Linked DNA regions of Homo sapiens: all the other regions are linked to region 1. The links come from fine-mapping of genetic effects on gene expression. A gene starts in region 1. Each other region holds a variant in brackets. All regions are shown on one strand. Distances are from middle to middle.

Region 1 (6,204 bases):
TTTTAAGCCATGGAATTTGTGGCCAATTTTTACAGTGGCACTTTGCTACCAGGGCTTTGAGAAAAATCAATTACCCACATAGCATGTGGTCTCTGTAAGTAAAGCCTCTCAGCAGGAACCTAGTCATTCCCTCCTCTCTCACATTATTTTTACTTGAATTCAGTAGAGAAAAAAATATAAAACAGAAATATGTTGTAAGGAAGGAGTTGCTCCAAACGTTAATCTCCAGAATAGCAAAGTTAATAATATATTTATCTTAGGTACTCAAGGCAAAAAGATCCCAGTGTTAGGACTTAGAACACTCGAGATGGAGTTCAGATCAATAAGTGTTCTAGACCAGCACTGTCCAATAGAAATAAATATCCATATATGCCATTTAAAATTTTCTAGTAGCCACATTTTTTAAATGCTAAAGAAACAGAAGCAATTAATCTTAATAACAATTTTATCTAATGCAGTATATCCACATTACCATTTCAACATGTAATCAATATCAAATGATTAGTGAGATAGTTCCTGTTCTTTTTTTTGAAAATTAGATGTGTATTTGATACTTTTTGCAGCACATCTCAACTTGGACTGGTCACATTTCAGGTATTCAATAGCCACTTGGGGCTCCTGGTTACCATCTTTGCTGTATTGGACAGGTCTAGGGTATCTAAATAGTTCCAATACCCAAAGGACATAAAAAATATAAGGCAAGCCAAATTCTGAAGCTTAAGGGCAGGTACATGCATGGAGCTAATGATTTATTCATTTGATGAGCGTTAATTGTGTACTATGCACTAAATACCATTTAAGAAGCACATAATTTTCTAGGTTATAAAATCATAGTGCAGTGTTTCAATTAAAAAGAACTGATGCTTATACTGGAAATCTCTATACAGCAGCCACAGTTTTTCCTATAAGTTGTGAAACCCCAGGAAATAACCAGTAGACACAGTTTTCTGCAATGGGTGCCTTGCCTTCTCTGTAACAGTGTCTTATCCATAATGTGGAATCTAGAGCTGATTAAACATGGGTCCTGGACATTCCTGAAGAGCTGACCACTTGACATTTCCAAGCACATTGAGCAAATAATAAACACACCAGCTCATAAACTTGATAATCGTCTAAAGAAACCATGGTTCACATCTTGAAAACTGCAGAATTGCAGAATCCTGACATGGATTCTCCAGTTTAATATGCTTTGGTTTATCCAGGGGCTTTTGGCTTTTAATTTAATTTGGTGGCACTTTGAAAGTGAAGCTCCTGGAGGTCAGTTTGCTGGCCGCTAAAGAACTATTAATCTCATCTCCAAACAGCATTTGGTCTTTTTTAAGTGGGCTTTCTAGCAACGCAAGAACCTCTAGCATTCAAGGAAAATGTGATTATGAGCAAATTGCATCTGCTTACATTTTTATCATGAAAAGGAAATTGAAACTTGCGATCATACATTCTAAGAACCTGGTTTGAGGTTTGTTCTGTTTTAACTTCGAAATCCTTTAATACCATGGCTAACTCTGATGAAATATTTTTTCCTGTAAGTCAAACAAAGATAGGCAAACCTTCGAGAAGCCTGTACCAAACCAAAGCTCTTATCCTACTCTCCTCAGGAATCATCACTGAAAAATTTCTATAGTTCAGCAGTCTCCGCTAGGAGCAATTGTGCCCTCCAGGGACCTTGGGCAATATCCCAAACCTTTTTTTTGTTGCCACAACTTGGTGGTGGTGGTGGTGGTGGGGGGTGGGGTGGGGTCAAGGTTGCTACTAGTATCTAGTGAGTAGAGGCCACAGGTGCTGCTAAACATCCTACAATGCACAGGGCAGCCCATCACCCCAACAAATAATTATCCAGCCCAGCCCGAAAGGTCAATAATGCTGCGGTGGAAAAACCATATTCTAGTGGACACCTAAGTAGAAAGCAAGACATCACAGTTAGAGAACCAGAAAACCTCTTCCGTTGCCGGAAGGCTGCCCTAGTGCCCTGGTGAAGAACAGACTTTGGGCCAGAATACCTAGGTTTGCACCCTGGCTCCATCTCTTACTGGCTATGCTTCCTCAGGCAAATTACTTTACCTCTCTGTGCCTCGTTTTTCTCTTCTACAACACGGAGATGATGATAATAGTACCTTACACACAGAGCCATTATGGCTTTGGGTAGGTTAATAGTCCTGAAGTGCTTAGAACAGTGCCAGGTCGACAGTCACCATGTAAGCGTGCATTTACTAAGCGTCTTTGCCGATCTCTGGAAAAAATATTTCAGGTCTCAGCTAAGCTTAAGGGCAGTAGGGAACGGCTTCAGAGTCTGCATTGCCATAGCAAGAATGAGAATGGTTGTCATCTGACAACCGTGTCCTTTCTTTCCAGTTCATCAACCCTAATCAGAGAGCAGTGAGGAGAGCAGCCCGGCTGGCTCAGCTCAAGAACAGTAAATGCTTTATCGTCCTCGGTTTCTTTCCCTCCTTCCCCAGCAAAACTAGCGACTGACAAGCACTTGGTGTCCTGTGAATAGAGTGGAAAACACAAAACCGCACAGACACAGAACCCACCCACCGACACGCATACCAACCCTCACACACCTGCCCCTACAGCAGGTCTGCAGACCATCAAGCCCGCACGCACCCACGGGTCTGCGTGCAGAGCCTCCCTCCTCCTGCAACCCTCCGGACGCAGCCAGGTGGGGCACAGCTGATGCAAAAGGAGCTAACTAGGTGCAAAGCCCCGCCACAGGAGAGCAGGGAGGAAAGCCCGTGGGCGCTCCCGGCCTGGTATCCAGGTTAAATCCCGTCGCAGCGCGCACAGGCACACGTGCACACTCACACCCATACACGCGGGGGTGCCTGCAAAGACATGGGGCCCCAAAGCGGGACCTCAGGCCGGGGGTGGGGGGAAGCCAATCGCCAGTCAGACACTCACCTGGCCGCGTTCCCGAAACCACCTGCCACCCAGGAGAGCAGCAGCGGGAGCGCAAGGCTCCAGGGCAGAGGCATTCTCGCACGGGTCCTCCTTCCTCCTCCTGAGCCCCCCTCGGGAGGGCGCCGGCCGGACCCCGTAGCAGCTAAGCCGCCGCCTCCTCTCTCCTCAGCCGCTCGGGTCCTCCGCTCCACTCGCAGTTACCGGGTGCTGTCCCTGCAGTCTGGGAGGGGAGGCCAGGCACCGCGGCAGGGGCGCTCGCGGCCTGGGGAGGGGCTGGGGGCGCCCTGGCAAGCCTGGCCGAGGCTCCTCTGCGGATGAAGCTGGACGGGGTGAGCGAGGGAGGGCGGGGCGGGCTGTGCACATCTGGCTGGGACCCGCCTCCAGCATGACCCGCGCATCCTCCGCGCTCTCTGTTCACCCAGAAACTTCCCCCAGATTCAGGTCACTTCACGCTTGTCAGAGTCACCATCTACTACCATGTATTTCAGGCATGGGGCAAATTTCGGTGATACCTGCACTCCAGGACTTAAGAATTTAGTTGAGAAGTCGAAGCAGGATGGAAGGATGCAGGTTCCTAAGACATGATCCCTCACTTCTCTTTGGGTTTTCACGTTCTCCCGGTTTTCTTCTACAAACTGCAAATAATGGGATGCTAGAGCTGGAAGGTCACTAAGTCCTGGGCAACCCTGTCATTTGGCAAGTAATCTCTCAGGCCCATTTGCAACAGCTTACTTACATGGGACCCCAGATGACATCCCAATATAGTAACCAGTGCAGAAATTCATGGCAGAAACATGAATGCTATATGAATTCAGATCCATTTGGGTACTGACACATTCTTTGTTCTGACAACGTGTTACATTAGAATGAATGACTGATCCCTTTCTGTCCTTCCTACGTCCACACCCTTTGGCTTCATGGTAGGCAGACACTATGACCCCACACCTTGGCTTTGGACTTGGCCGTGTGACTTGTTTGATCAATGGTTTAAGGGCAGAAAAGTTGCAGTGTTCCAGTTCCAAGCCTAGGTCTTAACACACCTGACCCTCTATCATGGACATGAGAAGACCTTGCACCACCTAGCCTGGTGGTCCAAGGCGAATGAGAAACAGGTGAAAAAGCTACCTCGTCAACCTGCAGATCTATAGCTTGAAGCAGAGCTACTCGGTGGAGCCTCATGTATATTACCCAATCCACACGTATATGAATGAGCTCAGCTAAGGTTGCCCGGCACCAGCCAATCTACTGAGGCTTATTGTGATAGTCCTCTGACACACAGTGGCCCAGTGTGAGAAATGAAATGAAAAAGGATACAGAGAAAGAGGAGGTTTATCTTGATTGGAAGCTTGATTCATGGTTTTATAGGCATATGCCTTAATTCTGGCCAATGAAATGTGAGAAGTAGGGAGGGGGGAGATTCTTGCTGCAGAATCTTGCTTTACATTGTAATAGATGTTCTTATTGGTGCAAGCCATGTTTAGTTGGGACTTCTATTTTACAGTTGAAGGTATCCCCATGGATTCAGTATTCTTGGGTAACTAGTTAGACCATTGAGCTGCTCGTAATTAATAGTGTCAGACCTTGTCCTAAACACATATGTTATCTGATTGAACATCCACAAGCCTGTGGATGGAGACCATTAGTTCCCCCATGTTTGAAGTGTCAAGAAACTGAGTCGGAGAGGTTAAGCAGCTTGCCCGACCAAGGTCATACAGCTAACAAGTATAGAACCAGAACTGGAAACCAGGGCTTTTCCCCATTGGGCTCTGCTGCTGTTATATCAATCTCTTTTCTCATCTTCTCACGTATTGGCAGATTCACATGTCAGATGAGTATCATGAATAAGGTAATAAGATGAGCTCTTCAAGGTTGTCATCAAAACACTTTGAACTCTTCATACCATAACTTATTTTATTTACTGAAATATTAAAACTAAAAGAAAATAATATAAGTTATGAACTCTATACCTGTGAGGATCTTAAAGAAAATGGAATATAAAATTTGTCTTGTTGTGGGTTTCCCCACAAGCAGGCCCTGAGGCAAGGATTCAAGTAAAAGTAGTTTATTCTGGAGGTACAGAGAACATGGGTAGGTGAGTGAGGAAATGAGTTGGGAAAGAAGACAATATCAGGCATATATTAAGTTATCATTGTGAGCAACTGGAGGTTCATGCTGCTGGGGATCTCCCAGAGCCAGCATAGAACAAGCATCTCCAAATGATTTTACCTAAAAGGCAAGGGAACTGGGTATTTATACACCACTTCCATTCACTCATTACCTGAAAGCTTCAACTGTGGTACTGATCCTAGAACTCAGTCTTCTGTGCTGAAGACAGAGTGGGGCTTACAGCCAAAGAAAGCCCTCAGGCAAATGGCTAGTGATACTGACTGTTGAAGGTCCTACTGAAATGTAAGGCCTGAGGGGATACGGGTAGTGGCATGACATTGGCAGCTACCTAATATCTGGAACTTGAATCGAATTAAAAATTATGGATTTTTGCCCATGCCACTTCTCCCTTAACATTTGGATACTAATCACTCCCTCCTCCAAATAAACCATTACTCAAAAAAGTCCTAACTAAACATGATTAGTCTAAAATGTGAGGGCTATCTGCCTTCTTAGTCCTGAGTTACAAAGTCAGAATAACATCTTGCATTGACATTATCTGTAACTTTCTAGCTTTAGTTTCAGTATTTTGATGCTTTGTGCTTTTTCTTTGTCAGCTGAATTCTCTTTTGTAGGCTTAAAGGAGGTAATGGACATTACAACAGGAAACTTTGGGGGAGGTCAAACACTCCCCAGCCAACCCACCTATTATTTCCTGGGGGAGCTGTGAACAAAAGAGCTGTCACATAATATGAGCAACAGAGAAGGAACCTGCAAATGATGTGTTGCCAGGTGAGAAGATGTTGGATACAAATTGCCACATGGAGGCAGTTGTTTTTAGTAACTGCACTGGTGTTGCTGACTTTGAAGAGGAACCTGGAAACTGATCTTTAGGGGACCCTACTTCATCATTCTACAGAGAAAAAACAATCTTTGATCAGAATCTCATAAAATCGTCCGTGCCTTTTACAGGGCTACATTTTCTTCCAATCTATTTCCACTTAACCCCCTGTGTGGAACAGGTGTGATGGGATATTTCTGTGCTTTCTGAATACATATACATGACACACGTATAAAACTTTTAACACTTACAATGTGCCAGGCACTGAGATCTAAAAATTATTGTAATATCAGCACCAAAAGCAAAGCATTGTCAGAAGAAAGAGCTGCATAGAAGAGTGCCTAGGCCAGTGTTTTCAA
Region 2 (6,204 bases), 48 kb after region 1:
TCCTTGATCACCCCACATTCAGAAAGATCCTGCCCATTTTGGGCCCAAGCTCATAGTGTAAAGCCTTCATTTCTGCCTTTTGGTGATAATGACACAGAAAGAGAAGGGCAGGACTCTAGGACTGATCTCTTTGGAGAAAGTTCAAAACTGCAATAACCACATGTCCTGTGCTCCTAGCCATTAGAAACCTAAGGCTGGACGCAAAATGTCTTGGGAAGTAATTCATAGTGGTATGGAAAACAGACCACAGGCTCAACAATTTAAACCAAGACATTGGCATTTATGAGAACTTTATTGCAAAGGAAGAGGAGAATGCCCACTAGCCAGAGACTTGAAACCCCATGCTGTGGTTCCTTGACTCTCAAAATTATGAACTGCTTTTAGAGCTGAGCATACTCAAGACACCCATCAATACCCACTCCCTTGTTTAGTAATGACTTTGTATTTACCAACAAGCTTCAAAAGATTAAACTGATACTTTCTTTGAAAACAAGGGTAATCACAGTAATCTGTTCAGAAGAAAAAAGGAAGTGTGCCAGTTATTAAGCTCTTGTCTCTCAGCCCCCAAATCACTCTGCTGCATTTCTGCTTTGCCGGTTGCTCCCTGTCAGACTCTGCCATGAAGGGATAATAGAGGGATGCAGCAAGACTGGAGGAGAGAGAAGAATGTGTTCCTTCTTGTTTATTAACATTCCTATTAGTGTCTTCTCATGAATGGTTCTCCCTAGCAGGTGGTTCCAATTCTTGTTTTTCCTCCTACATCATTGGAACCATCCTTATCCCACCCACTCAACCATCAGGACCACCAGAAAGTTTCCCCACTCAGAGCCATGGGTGACAGCCTCATAGGGACCCTCCTCCAATCTTCTAGGTTCAGAAACCTCTTCTCCCTGTTCCCACCAAGCCCTAGGGGTAGTGGCTGCTTCCTGCAGTTACAATCTCTGAGACAACTCAGGATTCTCTTTACTTGTCAGTTCTCCAACACCATTAACCAATTCCTTATATTAAATTCACTCTATTAAAATAACTGGTATAGATCCTGTCTTCCTGATGAAACTTTGACTGAAAAAGGAAGTATGACACTGAAGATTGGTCAAGAGTCATGGTATTTGTTCACATGAGTAAAACATTAATGATCTCTGTTAGTTGACCTCTTTAACTTTTGGATTAGATGACACGAAGCTCTATTGACTATGGAGAGATTGACACCACCGTTAATGGTGGACAGCATCCCTTCGTTATTATGAACTATGTTTTTCCTACTTATTTCATGGAATCAGTGAAGAAGTGACTATTAGGTACCTTGTGCATTGTGGGATGCAAGCACAGAGTCCTATATTCCAGTAATAATAGTTTCAGTTAATAGACCATGCATTTTTCATCATATCACAAAGAAGTATGATCTATGCCAGATGTCACCATGCTCTATTTTAAGTTTTTCTAGAGGACAGGCATTTCCACACCACATATAAAACTAAAAGGGACATTTTCACAGTAATGTAAGGGAAAGGAGACGTTTAGCACAACTGCAAGATGACATCCCTTATACTCTGTGCTCCAAGAAGCCTTCCTCAACAATGTTTTCTGAGTTTCCTCTGGGCAGGATTACCTAATCACAGCTGGTCTCCTCAGGGGTTGGGGATGTTCTGTCTAAATCAGCATTTCACACCTGAAAACAGAAAGCATACATTTTTCTTATAAAAATAGCTCAAGGGACAAAGGATACTTAATATGCCTCTTGAGGAAAGAATACAACACCACCTACAGACTTGCCAAAGTAATTGAACTTGAGTCCATTTAGACCTCTGAATCCAGATGTCAGTGGAAGGAAATAGAAGACAAAGGTCAGGGTTGAACTGCCCATGAATATGAAATAGCAAAATCCAGACACTTACAAATCTTATAGATTGACTGGCTTTGGTTTTTCAATAGGTAAATTATAAGAAAAGAAAGATGGAGGAAAACATATGTAATTCTTTTTCTTTCTTTTTTTTTTTTTTTTTGAGACGGAGTCTCACTCTGTCGCCCAGGCTGGAGTGCAGTAGCGTGATCTCGGCTCACTGCAATATCCGCCCCCTGGGGTTCACGCCATTCTCCTGCCTCGGCCTCCCGAGTAGCTGGGAATACAGGCGCCCGCCACTACGCCCGGCTAATTTTTTGTATATTTAGTAGAGACGGGGTTTCACCGTGTAAGCCAGGATGGTCTCGATCTCCTGACCTCATGATCCACCCGCCTCGGCCTCCCAAATTGCTGGGATTACAGGCGTGAGCCACCACACCCGGCCATCATATCAAGTTTTAAAAAATGAGCCAGACAAAACTCCAGTGTCTAGAGAGAGACACCGTCTGTTACAAAGATAAAGAAACACAAGGAAGTGATGACTAGAAGTCAGTGATGGTGGCTACTTTTGGGCTGTGACTGAACTAGGACAACTGAAGGGCTTTTGGGATGACTGCCAAAGCTCTATTTCTTGACCTGAATGATGGTTACAAGGCTGTTTATCTTATAAAAATTCATTAAGCTACGTCTTTGTTGTGCGTAGATATTTATATCTGGATTTTATTTCATGGCAAAGATTGAGAAAGAGAATAGCCCCTGGCAGCCTGGCACTATCAGCTAGACCAGGGGTGTCCAATCTTTTGGCTTCCCTGGGCCACATTGGAAGAAGAAGAATTGTCTTGGGCCACACATAAAATACACTAACATGAATAATAGCTGATGAGCTAAAAAGAAAATTGCAAAATAATCTCATGATGTTATAATAAAGTTTACAAATTTGTGTTGGGCCACATTCAAAGCCATCCTGGGCTGTATATGGCCCACAGGCTGTGGGTTGGACAAACTTGAGCTAGACTTTGATGTTGCTAGAAGCTGGCTTGGTACTTATGGTTGGGTCTTGGTGCCCTCCTATTGAACATAAATATTTTATAAACCAACAACATCAGACAAGGCCACTCTGTGACCATGATGGATAAAGATAAAAATAAAGACTGGCCTGTAATCATGTGTGACTACAGAAGACGGAGCATTGTGAGGTCACAAAAATGACCAAATATGGCCAGTAATAGAATTACCTCCACTTCTTAACAGCAACCACTCTAAAGCAAAACCTTGCTTCCTTAAACCCTCCCCTAAATCACCTAACATAAGCCCACACCCCAAAATAAGTTTTTTCTAAAAATCTCTTAATGAGATGTCCAATGGTTCCCCCATGGTGTGCAGTCTCCCTCATTGCAAAAAGCAGTAATCCCAATGTGTTCAACTATAGGTATGTTCCTGGCAGTCCTGGGCTGGAGGTCTTTGACAAGATAAACAACAAAGAAAGAAATAAAAATGAGAGAAAAAAAAGCCCAAGGGCTACCAGTCCCTGTCTGTCTGACAATGTTCCAGGCAACCAGAAATCTCTCCAAGTCAAGGTACATATTTGCCGTGACTGGGAATATTCAATTCTGTGTGCTGAAACATTTCTATTTCCTGATTCT[T/C]TGGGGAAATGGAGAAATACCATTGCAGTTGAGTGTAAATTGGAAAGCATGTTGGAAACATCTGGATATAAGTTCCAGAAATATCTGGCCTCTCTGCTGGCTTCACCCAGAGGGAGAAAGCCAGACTGCTTTGTAATAATCAGCAAGTCACTCTGAAACCACCTGACAGTTATCAAATTTAGGAATCTAAATTAGTCTGAGACCCAACACAGACATCTCCCGAAATATTCATATTCATTTCAGGTTGGAAAAGCTATTTTGTGCATGGCATAACCACAATCTCTTGTACTTGTGAGGCTTTATAAAGGCTTAAAAGAGCTTTCATATACCTGGTATTATTTTACCTTCAAAACAACTCTGAGAAAAACTGAAAATACATTGTTATACCTATTTTATGATGGAGAAAACAGAAAAGAGAAGTGACAATCTCAAGTACACATAACTAGCCAGGGCAAAAGCCAGGCCTCTGACCCTCTTAACTTTTCACTTTAGAAAATACTTAGTCATGACAAACCTTGATCCTTTCAGGGTTGATGTGATTGTTTGAAAGAGTCACATTTCATTTAAGCGAAGTCTGGACAATGAAGTGAGTAATACTTTTTATGGTTAAGGAAATGTAGAAGGTGTTATTCTTAAGAGTAAGAGTGATTTTTTTTGTAAGATATTTTCTGGCTCCTTGGTCAATTCTCTTTCCAAAATATCATCACACAGCACATCCAGGGGGACAATTAAACTTTCTGCTTTAGGGTAGAGTAAATACAGTTCGAGGGAATGGAGAGTTTGCAGGGAAACATGTTTAACATATCATCCCTCTATTGCTCTTCAGGGATTTGTGAACACGAACCAAGACAGTAAATTCTATGAAAACAATGGTACAATATTTGCTTCTGGAACTTTCTGTTCACCCACTCAAGAAATGCAGTATGACCAGGCCATGCCAGAAGGCCCTTTGTGTTCTGTGGTAACTTTGAGGCCCTTGGGTAAGTCATGGAACCTTGCTGAATCTCAATTTCTTTGTCTGTACAGCGAAAGGTGGGACTAGAGGAGCCCAGGGTGGCTTTTAGCTCTGTAATGCAATACTGTGATCTCAGCAGGATTTCACATCCCTCCTCTACTCATCTCTGATGGAGAGCGTAGCTTAGGTGATCATTTTACCTTTATGCCGAGACACACACAGAGGTTTTCCTATACCGTTTTCTTACGACAAATATCCATACACTCTTTTTATAACAAATAGTTTACAGTGCCTGTTTTCCTAGTTTTACATGAAATTCACAGACAATACAACCCACCTTTACGTACTTTTGCCCCAAAATTGGTATGATGCTCTAATAGTAATACAAAAGGGAATAAAATGAAAGTAATTCAGAATAAAATGTATTTAAACATGTAAACAGTCAAACATGACAACACTAGAAGTGTCCTTGCCCTCTGTCCTTCAGAAAAAAATTTTAAAGGCTCTGTGATCAAACAAATTTGGAAAGTTTTAGATTAATCCAAGTCCAACATTTTGCAGGACTTCTCAGAGACTTGAACATACTACTGTCCATTGCCAAGTTACAAGGGAGAATTTGGAATATAGCATTTTCCCAAATCTTAAGACCATGCAAGCCATTCTTTAGAGATGTTTTATGCAACTAGGGATCCTGAGGACATGCTTTGAGAAACTTTCCAACATCCATCACGAGGTACATCCAATCACGAGTGACAGCACGGCCCTGTGAACTGGTCATTGTCAAGGCTTAGTGTTATTGGGTGTAGGAACACAAACTAGAGCAGAAGCTCATTTAGCAACACCCTGGCCTTTACCCACTAGATTCCAGTAGCACTTTCCCACCCTTGCCAAAGTTCTGACAACAAAAAATGTCTCCAGACATTGCCAAATGTCCTCTGTGGGGCGAAATTGCCTCCTGTTGGGAACCCCTTATTAAGTAACATGCAATATATAACATTACTTTTCCCCTGCTCACATTTTATGAAAGATATTTTATTCAGATTCTCCACATTCAACTTCCAACAATGATGTCTTCACTATTCTGGGAAGCACTTCTGGAGCCATCTACAGGCATCTTCCAGGCTTCCACCATCTTTGTTTTTATCTAAGTTGTTTTGAGATACAGCCACTTGTCTCTGGGGACCACTGAGTATTCAATTCTCAGCCATGGTTTTTACGTTCATTCTGTATGTATTTGTGATCTTCAATCTTAATGGCAGATTCTATTGCTTCTAAAGAGCTTCTGGAAACAGCTTCACATTACCTGCAGTGCTAGTGACTACCACTTTCTGGTACCAGGGAAACATCTGCTGCTCTTGGCCATCTCAGGGGTCTGAGAGACTCTTGGAGATTCTCTTAAACTTCCTGCAGACACAGCAAAACGGATGTGCCTTTTGCTCCCACAGTACGCTGGGTACAGGGAACCCTAGGGTCTTTCTGCCCACTTGAGCTTTAGCCATGGACAGAGCATAAGTTCCCCTTGCATTCAGATCCTCAAAGCTAGGCTGGTCTTCCATTATTTCCTCCTCTCTGCCCTGACTTGGCCTTGTCAAGGGCACAGGCCTGCTCAGGGACCCACTGACATCTGAAGGATTTTCATTTACCTTTTATCTCTCTTTCTCCCACACATCCCAGAGAATCTTCTCTAGGCTTGAGCATGGCACAACTGTACCTGCTTGACGATGTTTTCTTCCAGGTCTTTGTATCACGCCCAGCCTGGGCTTTTG
Region 3 (6,204 bases), 26 kb after region 1:
TCCCCAAATTATGCAGTCTAAAGAGAAACAAAAGACATGCCGAAATTAACAGGGGATGGTGGCCAGCATTTCCAGGTTGTGTAAAAGGAGAGATGGCCTACCTAGAGCAATTAGGCAAGAGGAAAAAATAAAAGGCATCCAAATTGGAAAGGAGAAAGTCAAATTGTCCCTGTTTGCAGATGACATGATCTTATATATAGAAAAACCTAAAGACCGTACCAAAAAGCTCTTAGAACTGATAAATTCAGTAAAGTTATAAGATAGAAAATTAACATAGAAAAGTTGGTAGCATTTTCTATACACAGTGAACTAGCTGAAAAAGAAATCAAGAAGGCAATCTCATTTACAATAGCTACCAAAACAGTTTTTTTAAATACCTAGAAATAAATGTACCCAAGGGGGGGAAAGATCTCTACAAGAAAAACCACAAAACATCAATGAGAGAAATTGAAGAGGATACAAATAAATGGAAAGATATACCACGCTCATGGATTAGAAGAATTAATATTGTTAAAATGACAATACTACCCAAAGCAATCTACAGATTCAATGCAATCCCTATCAAAATACCAATGGCATTTTTCACAGAAATAGAAAAAACAATCTTAAAATTTGTATGGAACCACAAAAGGAGAAACTGGGGGACAGAACTGGGGAAGCTACATTGCCATCAGACTTCAATGCAAGTCTGACCCCAAGTGAGGAAGAGAAGTTTGGTGAAAGAATCCGACTGCTAAGCAGACAAAAGGAAGGTTTGGCAGAGCTGCCTGGAAGTCTTGAAGTCAGAATCTTCCATTAGAGGAAACTTGTGTATCCCAGTAATGGGCTGGCTTAGTACCCACCACACTCAGTCATCAGCAAGGGCAAGGCATGGGAGGGGTGGCCTTGGCACAAATGCTGTGATGAATTTCAGAGGCAGCAGCTGGGGCCGTCAGTCACTTCAGCTCCTTGCAGTTAGACATCTGCAAGGTGTATTTTAACAGCCCTCATGTTTACAAATCACCCCTTTCCACTGAGGTCCATTTGGGAATTGTCACAACTAGCCCATCTCTAGTCCTGCCTTAATCTTTTTGCTTAAGTTAACTATTTATAAAGCTGTGTATAGTTCATTTTCCCAAAGGTGGATTTAATTATTCTGAAGTAACTTTTCTGTTTTCATGCAATATTGTTGGTAATGTAACTCTTTCAATTGTGGTTAAAAAATAATTGGACTGGTGAATTTTGGCAACTGAAATCAAGTTTCAGGTGCTCAGAAGAGGCAGATCAAGTTAACACTGTGCAACATGAGTTCTGATAAGGCCTGCATCTTTGGGTGTGTAAACATTACCTAAGCACCTGTAGGGCAAAAAGCCAGGGCCAAAATATGATGGAGCAGGTGCAAGCGATGAAGGAATAGTAAAAGGAGGCTGCCAACTGAAGCCAAAAATATAAATGGGAACAATAGCAGGCCCCAGTGGTGAGAGAAAATTCCCCAACTCTGCTAATCTCCTGTGCCCTTACAAGGGCTCCATGTGACAGAACTGCAGTGCTTCAGCAAAATCCCTTTGAGCAGAGGAATAGGAATGCTTTATTTGCATGTATTTGGGCCAGAGTTTGTCTCTTATTTCATGGTTTGTTCTTCTAGTTTGTATGAGAAGTGGAGATTACAAAACTCGGCACATTTGTGGGAATGGACTTCAATGCCTGGCTGTGAAATTAAACCCAGGGAGAGATAGGGGGTGTTTCTTCAATGTGGTATGCTGGCTTCGCCCACATAGTCCCCCTGACATCTATCTGTAGGAGCGAAACTCAGAACCGAGTTATCGAAGCACTGGAAATGCTTCTTGGCTCTCAGCACTTTCCCCAAAATTTCAATGAACACTGCCCAAGTCTTCTCTCTACATGCAAAGCCATTTTGGAAGAATTTTAAACTGTAGCAAGAAAAGAGGTTTCCAGAATTTGTGGTCTTAAACTGTTTATTCATTTAAAATATAGTATTTGTTTAAAATTTAAATGTATGTTAGGTAGTCTTTTTTTTCTTTTTTTTTTTTTTTTTTGAGATGGAGTCTCTGTCTGTTGCCCAGGCTGGAGTGCAGTGGTGTGATCTCGGCTCACTGCAACCTCTACCTCCCGGGTTCAAGTGATTCTCCTGCCTCAGCCTCCCAAGTAGCTGAGACTACAGGCGCATGTCACCACGCCTGGCTAATTTTTGTAATTTTAGTAGAGACGGGGTTTCACCATATTGGTCAGGCTGGTCTCGAACTCCTGACCTCAGGTGACCCCCCCACCCCCCACCCCCGGCCTCCCAAAGTGCTGGGACTACAGGCATGAGCCACTGCACCCGGCCTGGTAGAAAAAATTTTTAAAGGAGAAAAGGACATGCCATGGAAACCACTGCTCCTTCTCTCTCCAGTGACAATATGGAGCCTTACCTGAGCCCTACACACCTGGAAAACAGCAGAAGGCTCAGAAACCCCCTCACCCACTTTTTTTGTGTTGCAGGAAATGACTATTGCAAAGAACCACCTTTCCTCATATGATGATTTAGATAACCCCCCCTCGTTTACCTAGTACAAAGCCAGATACAGATTCTCCAAATTTCTATTCTTTTCCTTAAAAATGACTAGCTGAGCTCTTTTGTCCCTGCTGATCAATCGGGACAAAATGCTCTTTCCCCAAGACTCTGACATTCTGGCCCAGCCGCAGTCTAAACCAGCCACTCCAGAGAACAAGCTGGCCTGGGGGTAAAACCTTCTCTGATCTGCTGTTCCACGATGCCACTCTCGTTCATCCCACTGCCCACCCCTGCTCATTTTTGGCTTGATTTACTCATTCCTATAAAAGAAAAGTCATTTTTGCCTAAACCTTGAGAAGCTTGCAGATCTTACTGTTGGTGTATCCTGCCTAGAGCAATAGTCCCTTGCACCCCCTTACAATAATACTAATCACCTTTACCTACTAAATCTGGATTATTATATTTAGTTTTCTATGTGACATCAGTCCCTCAATTTTTCTCCCTGAAGATAACCACTGTTACCTTTTTTTTCAGACCTTTCCTTAGTCTGTGTATTTATAAAAATATGTTTGTAAATATTTACCCTGCTTCTACTCTTATTTTCATTTAACATTGTAGTTTACAGATTATTCCAATTATATTTTAAGGTTATAAAGTCTTCCATGGCATTTTATGGGTGCACCATCATTTACTTAAACAGTCCTCTCCTGACAGATATTTAGGGTGTTACATAAACTCCACTGTAATGAATTTTACATATATTTGATATTATGCATATGTGTGAGTATGTCCATGAGAGAAATAACTAGTTGGGGAATTTCTGGGTCAGAGCGCACAGGCAATTTTAATTCTGGTAGACAGTGCTGAATTGGGCCCCAACTGAGATTTATAGAATCAGAATTTGCACTTTAACAAAGCCCCAGGTGATTTTTTTTCTTTTCACATTAAAGTTTGGGAAGCTGCCCCTAAAGCAGCAGTTCTCACCCCTGGCCACATATTTTACTCGCCTTGGGAGTTTTTAAAAATTCTGATGCCCGGGGCTCATTTCAGACCAATGAAATCAGAATTTTGGCCGGGCGTGGGGATAGGGGT[G/A]AAATCGATGCATCAGGATTTTTTAAAAGCTCCCCAGATGATTACAAGTTGGCAGTTATAAATGATCTATTTTATTATTACCTGCTTCTTTTTAAAAATGAAAAAGCAGAATATTTTTAAAAGCCAGTTACATAAGGGTTTGGTGAGGAGTGTTCTGGCTAACTACATGATTATACTTGGCTGGATGAAATGAGTTTGGCATAATACTGACTCATAATAATAGTGTTTATACATAGCATTTTATGTTTTGCTGTATGGCATCTGATTTAAATTCTCTTTCATAAACCCTGTTGGAGCACTAACTTTGTACCAGGTTCTTTGCTAGGTACCGAGAAAACTGGACTGAGGTATGTCTTATTTATGCCATCAAGAGGCCTACAGTTTAGGGCATGTCATAACCAGCCATGGGCATATTGGGATTTCAGTAACATGGGCCAGTGGGTGAAAATTGGGCCTGTCGTACTCTGGAGAGAAAGCCAGCAGTCCAAGTTACAGTGTTTAGAGTAGCCTGGTGAATTGGACTTGATTAAAGCATCAATATGGGGGAAAGTGGGGAGGCAATGAAGAAAAGCCTAAATTTGCTCTAACGAGTTTTGGGCATGATTCGTTTTTGCTAGGCTGTAGGATGGGCAAATCAGGAAAAGAGTAGCATCATGGTTTTCTTGGATTTTCAGGGTAGAGTGGGGCTCTCACCAGCAGCAGAGCATTCAGGGATGGGGCCCAGTTTCCAGGAGAAGGGGGACTAGCTTACACTAGATCTGGAAAGCTGAAGAGGACGTACAGACTGCAGCCATGTGGTAGGAACTGGACAATCATGGCTGGGTCTAGGGAAGTCCGTAGACTGGTAGCCATTCAGGACACTTGGGGCTCCCACTTCCCATAGGCAGAAAAAAAAGAAAAAGAAAAACCATGATGTGGACAGCAAGGCTAATTCTTTGTGTGTGTGCGTGTGTTATTTGGTTATATGAGTAAGTTCTTTAGTGGTGATTTGTGAGATTCTGGTGCACCCATCACCCGAGCAGTATACACTGAACCTCATTTGTAGTCTTTTATCCCTCACCCCCTTCTCACTCTTTCCCCCAGAGTCCCCAAAGTCCATTGTGTCATTCTTATGCCTTTCCATCCTCACAGCTTAACTCCCACTTATGAGTGAAAACATTTGATGTTTGGTTTTCCATTCCTGAGTTACTTCACTTAGAATAATAATCTCCAATCCCATGCAGGTTGCTGCTAATACCATAAATTCACTCCTTTTTATGGCTGAGTAGTATTCCATCATATATATACCACAGTTTATCACTTGTTGATTGATGGGCATTTGGGCTGGTTCCACATTTTTGCAATTGCAAATTGTGCTTCTGTAAACATGTGTGTGCAACTATCTTTTTCATATAATGACTTATTTTTCTCTGGGCAGATACCCAGTTAGTGGGATTGCTGGATCAAATGGTAGATCTATTTTTAGTTCTTTAAGGAATCTCCACACTGTTTTCCATAGGGTTTTACTAGTTTACACTCCCACCAGCAGTGTATAAGTGTGTTATTCTACAGTGAAAATAGTTTCTAAAAATTAAAAATTCTAATCTTGAAGTACGAAGTTAAATCCTTCTAAGGATATTGTTTGCAGTTGGTGCAGAAGTCACAGTTCCTTTATTTATTTATTTATTTACTTAATTAATTTTTGAGACAGAGTCTTGCTCTGTTGCCCAGGCTGGAGTGCAGTGGCACAATCGCATGATCTTGGCCCACTACAACCACTGCCTCCTGGGTTCAATCGATTCTTATGCCTCAGCCTCCTGAGTAGCTGCGATTATAGGCACACGCCACCAAACCTGGCTAATTTTTTTTTTTTTTTGTATTTTTAATAGAGACAGGGTTTCGCCTAGACATGTTGCCCAGGCTGGTTTCAAACTCCTGGCCTCAAGCAATCCACCTGCCTCGGACTCCCAAAGTGCTGGGATTACAGGCATGAGCCACTGTGCCCAGCCCCCAGAAGTCACAGTTCTGTTGCGGACTATAAGTGAGGGCCAGAACATAGATCTTTTTTATATTTTTCAAAAGTATGAAATGAAGTGAAATACGTGCAGGTCAATATGTTTATGACTCTTTTATGGTTATTTCTTCCAGCAGTCTTTAAGATAGTAAATATAGGAACTTCAAATGACTTCTCATGAACCATATCACTATACATGCTCTCTTTTTTCCTGCAAATCGGGTTATTTTCTTTGAAATAGGAATAGGAAATTGAATGGAATGGAATGTCCTTCCACCCATCTTTCATCAAAGGAATTTTTATTGTAAGTAGCACCAGAATCCTGGGCCTGCCTCTTGAAAGGAAAAATGAAACACATCTCTTCCCACCTCCTCTGCCAACAGGCATTAGCTATCCCAAATATTAACAGAGATAACCTCCCAGCAAAAGATGTAGGCCCTTAGATTTCCTTATAAGCCCTTAGAGGAAGAAAAAAATATACCGCCCTAATCCCGAGTAATTCCTGAGCTATGCAGCTCAAACAGAAAGTCAAATAAAATAAAAGTATATCTTTCTTAAGTGAAAACTGTTTTGCAATGAAAGTCAGGGTTATTTATACTGGCTGTGACTGAGTGTTGCCCTCAGA
Region 4 (6,204 bases), 34 kb after region 1:
TGTGTATCTACAAAAATAAAAAATAATAATAAATTAGCCAGGCTTGGTGGCAGGCACCTGTGGTCCCAGCTACTCAGGAGGCTGAGATGGGAGGGTCACTTGAGCCTAGGAGGTAGAGGCTGCAGTGAGCTGTGATCATGCCATTGCACTTCAGCCTGGGCAACACAGTGAGACCCTGTATAGAAAAAAAATAAAAAGGAAGCTGTTTAACTGGACAAAGATATATTGATTTCCAAGCTCTTTGCCTAAGAATTGTCTTTCGAAACTTTCGGAGTTGCATATTTGCATTGGCCTTACTAGAAGAACAAACGGATCAAACTTGTTTATTTTTCACAGGGGTGTTGATGAGGTCCTTGTTAGGCACTTTTGCCCCATCCTCTTTGCTAGGACTAGGGGAGAAAAGAACTAAGAATTAGTTTATGCTTTCTGGATGCTGAATCAAGTAACTGCCTATGTCTCTCTCTTTGAGTTGGCTGCTTGAAGGCTTAGAGCCTAAATTTTGGCCACAGTATGCATGTTGAGTAGTTCACTCTTGGCTGCTTCTTATTTTTCTTTACCTAATTTCTTCACTTACTTTTTGTTTGTTTGAGATAGAGTCTCTCTCTGTCAGGTAGGCTGGAGTGCAGTGGCATGAACACGGCTCACTGCAGCCTTGATCTCCTGGGCTTAAGTGGTCTCCCACCTCAGCCTCCTGTGTAGCTGGGACCACAGGTGTGTGCCGCCACATGTGGCTATTTTTAATTTTTTGATTTTTTTTTGTAGAGACAAGGGTTCACTGTGTTGTCCAAGCTGGTCTGGAACTCCTAGGCTCTAGCAATCCTCCCGCCTCAGCCTCCCAAAGTGCTGGGATTACAGGCATGAGCCACTGGGCCTGGCCAAGTTCAGAGCCCTTAATATATCAATAATATTTGTTTTAAGTTTCTTATCTGATAATTTCAAAATCTGAATCACATCTAAGTCTGATACTGATGCTTGTTTTGTCTCTTTAGACTGTATTTTTTCCTTGCCTTTAGCTTATCTCATAATTTTTTTTGTTGGAAGTGATCATGATATATCTGGTAATAAAAACTGAGTTAATTAGGCTTTCAGTGTAAGGCTTTATGTTAATTTGGCTAGGAGGTGGGCTATGTTTAATGTTAACTGTAGCTATATGTGCCAAAGGCCCTACCCAGACTAACTTACTTTTTTAATGTAACCTTATCTCTTGTGTTTAAACGTTGTTCCAATCAATACATTTAAAAGTACATTTGTAATAATCAATACATTTGATACAATGTATAAAAAACACACATGTAGCAATTGATATATTTGTAATGATTGATACATGTATAGCAATCAATGAGTTTAAAAAATTTGCAATGTTTTATATTTGCAATGATTTATATTTAAATCCATTATTGGAGGATAGCCTGGTATAAACACAAAAAACAACAGATAGACACTATTGTTTTCTAGATGTACTGATGAAATATCCAGTAATTTTAAAAGAACATGGCTGTTGGTGGAGGAAATGGGGTACAACATGCTTTTACTTTGGTCAGTGGCTTTTCCAAATTGTTTTCATCTAGGACTTCCCAAAAGAGGATCACTTGGGGAAACTGAGGCATCTTAATGCCTTTTAAATCTGCAGTAACTCAGGTCTGTCTGCTTAGCAGCGTCCAAACTGACCATTGTTTCTAGATTTCTAGGGTTCTCGCTGATGTCTGATTCATCATTGTCTCTAGTGTCTTCTTGATATTAACGGGGATCCCGGAAACAAACAAAAAAGTACACTTTTTCCATGTACATACACATATACGTTGTATAAACCATATTTTAAGAAAATGACATTTTAAAAGAAGCCATTCCTCTTAATCAATTCCTCTTTTCATTCTCCTTACTCCTAACTGTGCCCTGACTATGGTGATGGTGCACATATTTTCTTTAAAAATGAGGGAATGGCCATTCGAGGAAAATCTGCTTCGAATCTGAACTTATTTTCTACTCCACTCTGGGAGATCCTTTATAATATGGTATAAAATGAGGCCTCAATTTCCTCAGCCTATAAAATATCCAGAGGTATTCAAAGCTGCCTTCAAAATGCTGGAAACCATGCCATCTGAGACTCAGAGGAATAGCCTACGCCTCACATTTGGAAATGTTGTTAAAACCTCATCCCAGAAGTTCATCGTTTTCCTTCACTCTACGAATCCTGCTTTCATTTGTGTGAAATGTGTCCTGGTGGAAATAGCAAGAGTGAAGCTGGCTGGGGCTGCTGGGACCCCGTGAGCCAGTGGTGAAGGCAGTGGGGGATGTTCTGCTGGAAATAACAGAACTTGAAAACAATGAACTCATATGATGGGGTTTGCCTGCTAAGTCATTCCTTGGTCCCTTCCATTCAATTCTGAGAATGGGTCTTAATAGGCAAGGCCCCCTCAGAAGCTGGGGAAAATGACCAGGAAAAAAAAAGGCTCACTGGGTATATTTAGTGAAGAGAAAAGAGCACAAAATATAATTCACTCTTAGACCAGTGCTGTACAATAGAACATTCTGTGATGATGGAAATGTTCTATATTTGTGCTGTCCAATATGGTAGCCACTAGCCATATGTGGCTACTGAACACTTGAAATATGGCTAGTGCAACAGAGGAACTGAGTATTTAATTTTATTTCACTTTTATTAATTTAAATTTTAATTGCCACATGATGGTAGTGGCTACTGTCTTGGACAGTGCCGCCTTAGACAATTTTGAGGATAATGAAGTATGATTTGGCTCGCAGACATGCAAAATGCTAGGCCTGCTCAGTATTTCTTAGCTACTTTCTATGTGTCTAAGGCTGTGATCCCCAAGGATTTGTATCACTCAAAATAAGTATGGCTGTGTGCCAGCTTGTTTATCTCTGCCATTTTTGCTATAGGTTCCTTCCTCTGCAAACAGACTTTCTTTCTTTTCAGCTTGCTTTTTGCAGAGAGCCAGAAAACAAGGCTGCCTGCCAGCACTTTACCCCCATGGCTAGGCTCAGAGAGGATGAGAGCTAGTCTCTCAGGGAGGATTTGCTGAGACAGATCTCTCCAGTGGTGAGGGCTGGGGCAGTCTGCCTTAACACGACTCAGTTACCTTCTCCTAACAGAACGCCAGGTGAATTTAAATTACTTACAGATGGGGAATGTAGGTCACTAGCAAAGCGAGGTCCTGAACAAATTGTGAGCCTGACAATGCTACTTCAAGTTCACCTCTAGCTGGGGCTATGTGACTGTTGAAAATCAAATACAAGACCCTAAGTATGGGTTTGCTAAGTCATTTCAATGCCCTGTAAGTGGTAACTCCAGCAGTCTTACCCCTAATTAGGAAGTTGGCCCAGATCACAGGTTGTGGTAAACCATCATGACCACA[G/T]TTTGCAGCCCTGGCCTGGGTCACAGCATGGCCCGCAAATTCCAAAATCAGATGATAGCAGCTAAAAACTAGACCCACAGTGCATGATAAGTGTGTGTGTATCCATACAGCGATTCATTAAAAACACGGATTAAGTGGTTACTATTCACCAGGCCCTAAGCTGGGAGCTAGACATTCAGGAAAGAAGGAAAAAAAATCCTCTGCCTTCAAGTTGCTCACCATCCAGTGGAAGACATAGCAGAAAAGACTCAAATATTGCAATAGACTGTGGTAAGAATGTGTCATGATAGGGTGAATGGGATATTGTGATTGTGGAGCCTGGATTCAGCTTTGAACTTCACCAAGGCAGCTTCCTAGAGGAGATGGCACGGGTGCTGGACCTGAAAACAGAGTAGGAATTTGTCAGGTGGGCAAGGGAGTTCTAGGCCAAGGCATTTGTCCAGAGGAATAGAAGCAGGAGAAGCTTGGTATATTTGGGGTAGCCCAGGTGGTGTATTCTGACCCTCAGTGTATGTGTAATGACCCAGAATTACACAGAACTGTCTAAAATAGAAAGTCCAAAAAACTCTTTTGCCTCAAATTTCATGACCCAGAGACAACCACTGTTAACTGTTTGATGTATCCTTATAGACTGTACACATAAGTATAAGAAATGGTGCTTTTACCTAGTAACTGCTCAATAAAGTTAGTTCCATAAATGTTGACTCTGTGTGTGTGTGTGTGTGTGTGTGTGTGTGTGTGTGTGTGTGTCTGAAATGGCCACAAAGTTCAGCTCAGACTCCCTCATTCTCCCCCAAACATGAGCTCTCCATGTTCTCCTGGTCATCTCCCTCCATTCTCAGGCCTGGAAATCAGGAGAGAGAGCCTTGGCAGCTGGTTTGAGGTCTTTGTTGATGAGACACAGTCTCAGGCATAGAGCTTTCTGGCCACTGAATGTCATGGTTTGGCTGGGAGGTTGGTTTTAGAATCTCCTACCCCCAAATCCCATCTCATCTAAAGCTATGCCCCATTTGAACCCTGAAGAGAATCCCCCTAGTAGGGCTGCCTCAAAGCCATAGTTGCCATTTAAAATCGACTTTGCTCCCATTTGCCTGGTTCTTTAGCACTTAAAGTGTGGCTCATGGACCAGCAGCATCAGTACCTCCTAGAAGCTTCTTAGGAATGCAGAATCTCAAGCCCCACTCTATCCGAATCCGTAGGCTAACAAGATCCCCAGGGGATTTGTGTGCGCATCACAGTTTAAGAAGCTCTGGCCCAGTCAACACAACCTCTTTTTGTGACAGAAACCCAATTGTTGGCCCTTCACCTCAGCTCAGCCAGCCCTTCCCCTTCTCCCTCACTTGCTTTGGCTTTTGAAACCACCCTAAAGAGAAAATGGTAAATTTCTGGAAGGTCACTTGTGACATTTTCTTCTTGGATTAGCTAGGAGCCCTTCATGCTCTTCCTGACCCTCCAAACACTCCCAGTTCCCCTTGGAATTGCTACTCTCAGCTTTGATCCTCTGCTGGTCCAGCTTTGTGGCTTCTGTCCACTGCCTCTGCCTCACATTTTTAGTTATGCAGAGAGATGGCATGGGACAGTTAACCCATGTATGACTCATGGTACTCACGTGCCAGGATTCCAACCCTAAGCACTTGTATTGCTTTGGGCAAGTTACATCACTTCTCTGTGCCTCATACGTGAAAACAGGGGATACTGACAGTTCCTGCCTTTCAGGGTTGTTGCAGGGAGGATTATGTGAGTTAATAAGTATATATGAAGCATCATACGTGGGAGCTCTTTGTGGCAGATGAATACTAGCTGAACACCAAAATCCATGATTATTTTTTCTCTCTGGGCACAAGTGAAACTTTAAGTTTGGGCACATGGCTAAATTTTCCAGCCTTCCTTGCAATTAGATGTGGCCATAAGAGTGAGTTTGAGCTATGAGAATGGAAGCAGAAGTGATGAACATTACTTCCAGGCTTGACCCATAACATCTCTCATGTATGTTTCTCCACGTTCTTCCACTTGGCTTGAATGGAGACCACCTCTGGGGTGGCCTTGGAAGCTACATGTTGAAAATAGCAGAGGCTTTGTAAGCTGTTTACCCCTTCTGGACTACTATAGGAGGGAGACATACATTTTTGCTGTGTTTGAACCATTATTCATTTTTTTAGTCCATTTATTACAGCAGTTAGCCTACCCTAACTAAGATACCATTATTGTCTGCCCTTGTTAGCTCACCTGCCTGCCCTGTCCTCCCGCACCCTCTCTTGGATCTGGCACTAGCTACCTCCAACCCTTCTGTGACTACCTTTATTGTTCATAGTATGCTTCAGACAGAGGCTGGCAAACAGGCCAGATGGTTTTGTTGCAATTACTCAACTCTGGCATTGTAGCATGAAAGCAGCCAGACAATATGGGAATAAATGGGCATGGCTGTGTACCAATAAAACTTTATTTACCAAACAGGAAGCAGGACACATTTGGCCAGAGGGTCACAGTTTGCCAACCCCTGCTGTAAGTCCAATTTTGGTTGAAACTGGCAGAACCTCAGAGAATCATATTTGACTTGATTGACTGATGATTTTTACAGAACTGCCTTGATAATCATATCTGTATTATTTTTTCCCCAGAATCCAGGACGTTTCCATTCTAAGTCCAGTTCAGTGCAGACTATAGAGAAGTTGTGGATCTCTGCTATAATGTCAGCCTGCTTTTCTGAGCCAGATGATAAAAAAAATTTAGTCTACTTGCCCCTGTGATTATTTCACATTTTCTCTTGTCAGCTAGCTGTTGCCGTTCTCTCACTATTCTAGATGGTTCTCTTTTCAATGTGGTGAATCTG

Alleles and levels. Positions count from the first base shown, and alleles are read on the strand shown. Sizes are in standard deviations (SD) of each study's normalised expression. Not every link is listed here.
In carriers of allele T in region 2, the expression in aorta of the gene that starts at base 3,233 in region 1 tends to be lower than with C alone (moderate effect, 0.73 SD a copy in GTEx).
For the expression in subcutaneous fat of the gene that starts at base 3,233 in region 1, allele T in region 4 goes with a higher level than allele G (small effect, 0.12 SD a copy in GTEx).

Evidence for each region.
Region 2: its variant is fine-mapped to the expression of EGFL6 in aorta (GTEx, PIP above 0.99). The same link has a PIP of 0.9 or more in gastroesophageal junction.
Region 3: its variant is fine-mapped to the expression of EGFL6 in subcutaneous fat (GTEx, PIP 0.98).
Region 4: its variant is fine-mapped to the expression of EGFL6 in subcutaneous fat (GTEx, PIP above 0.99).

Annotation. Positions count from the first base shown.
Region 1 is chrX:13,566,630-13,572,833 of GRCh38, reverse strand. EGFL6 (EGF like domain multiple 6) reads right to left here and starts at 3,233. Exons shown (of 12, transcript NM_015507.4): 1 at 2,899-3,233. The coding sequence starts at 2,972.
Region 2 is chrX:13,518,465-13,524,668 of GRCh38, reverse strand. No RefSeq gene overlaps it. Among named protein-coding and RNA genes, the nearest start is that of EGFL6, 48 kb to the left of the region's middle. The variant T/C (reference allele first, on the strand shown) is at 3,484.
Region 3 is chrX:13,540,630-13,546,833 of GRCh38, reverse strand. No RefSeq gene overlaps it. Among named protein-coding and RNA genes, the nearest start is that of EGFL6, 26 kb to the left of the region's middle. The variant G/A (reference allele first, on the strand shown) is at 3,587.
Region 4 is chrX:13,532,717-13,538,920 of GRCh38, reverse strand. No RefSeq gene overlaps it. Among named protein-coding and RNA genes, the nearest start is that of EGFL6, 34 kb to the left of the region's middle. The variant G/T (reference allele first, on the strand shown) is at 3,375.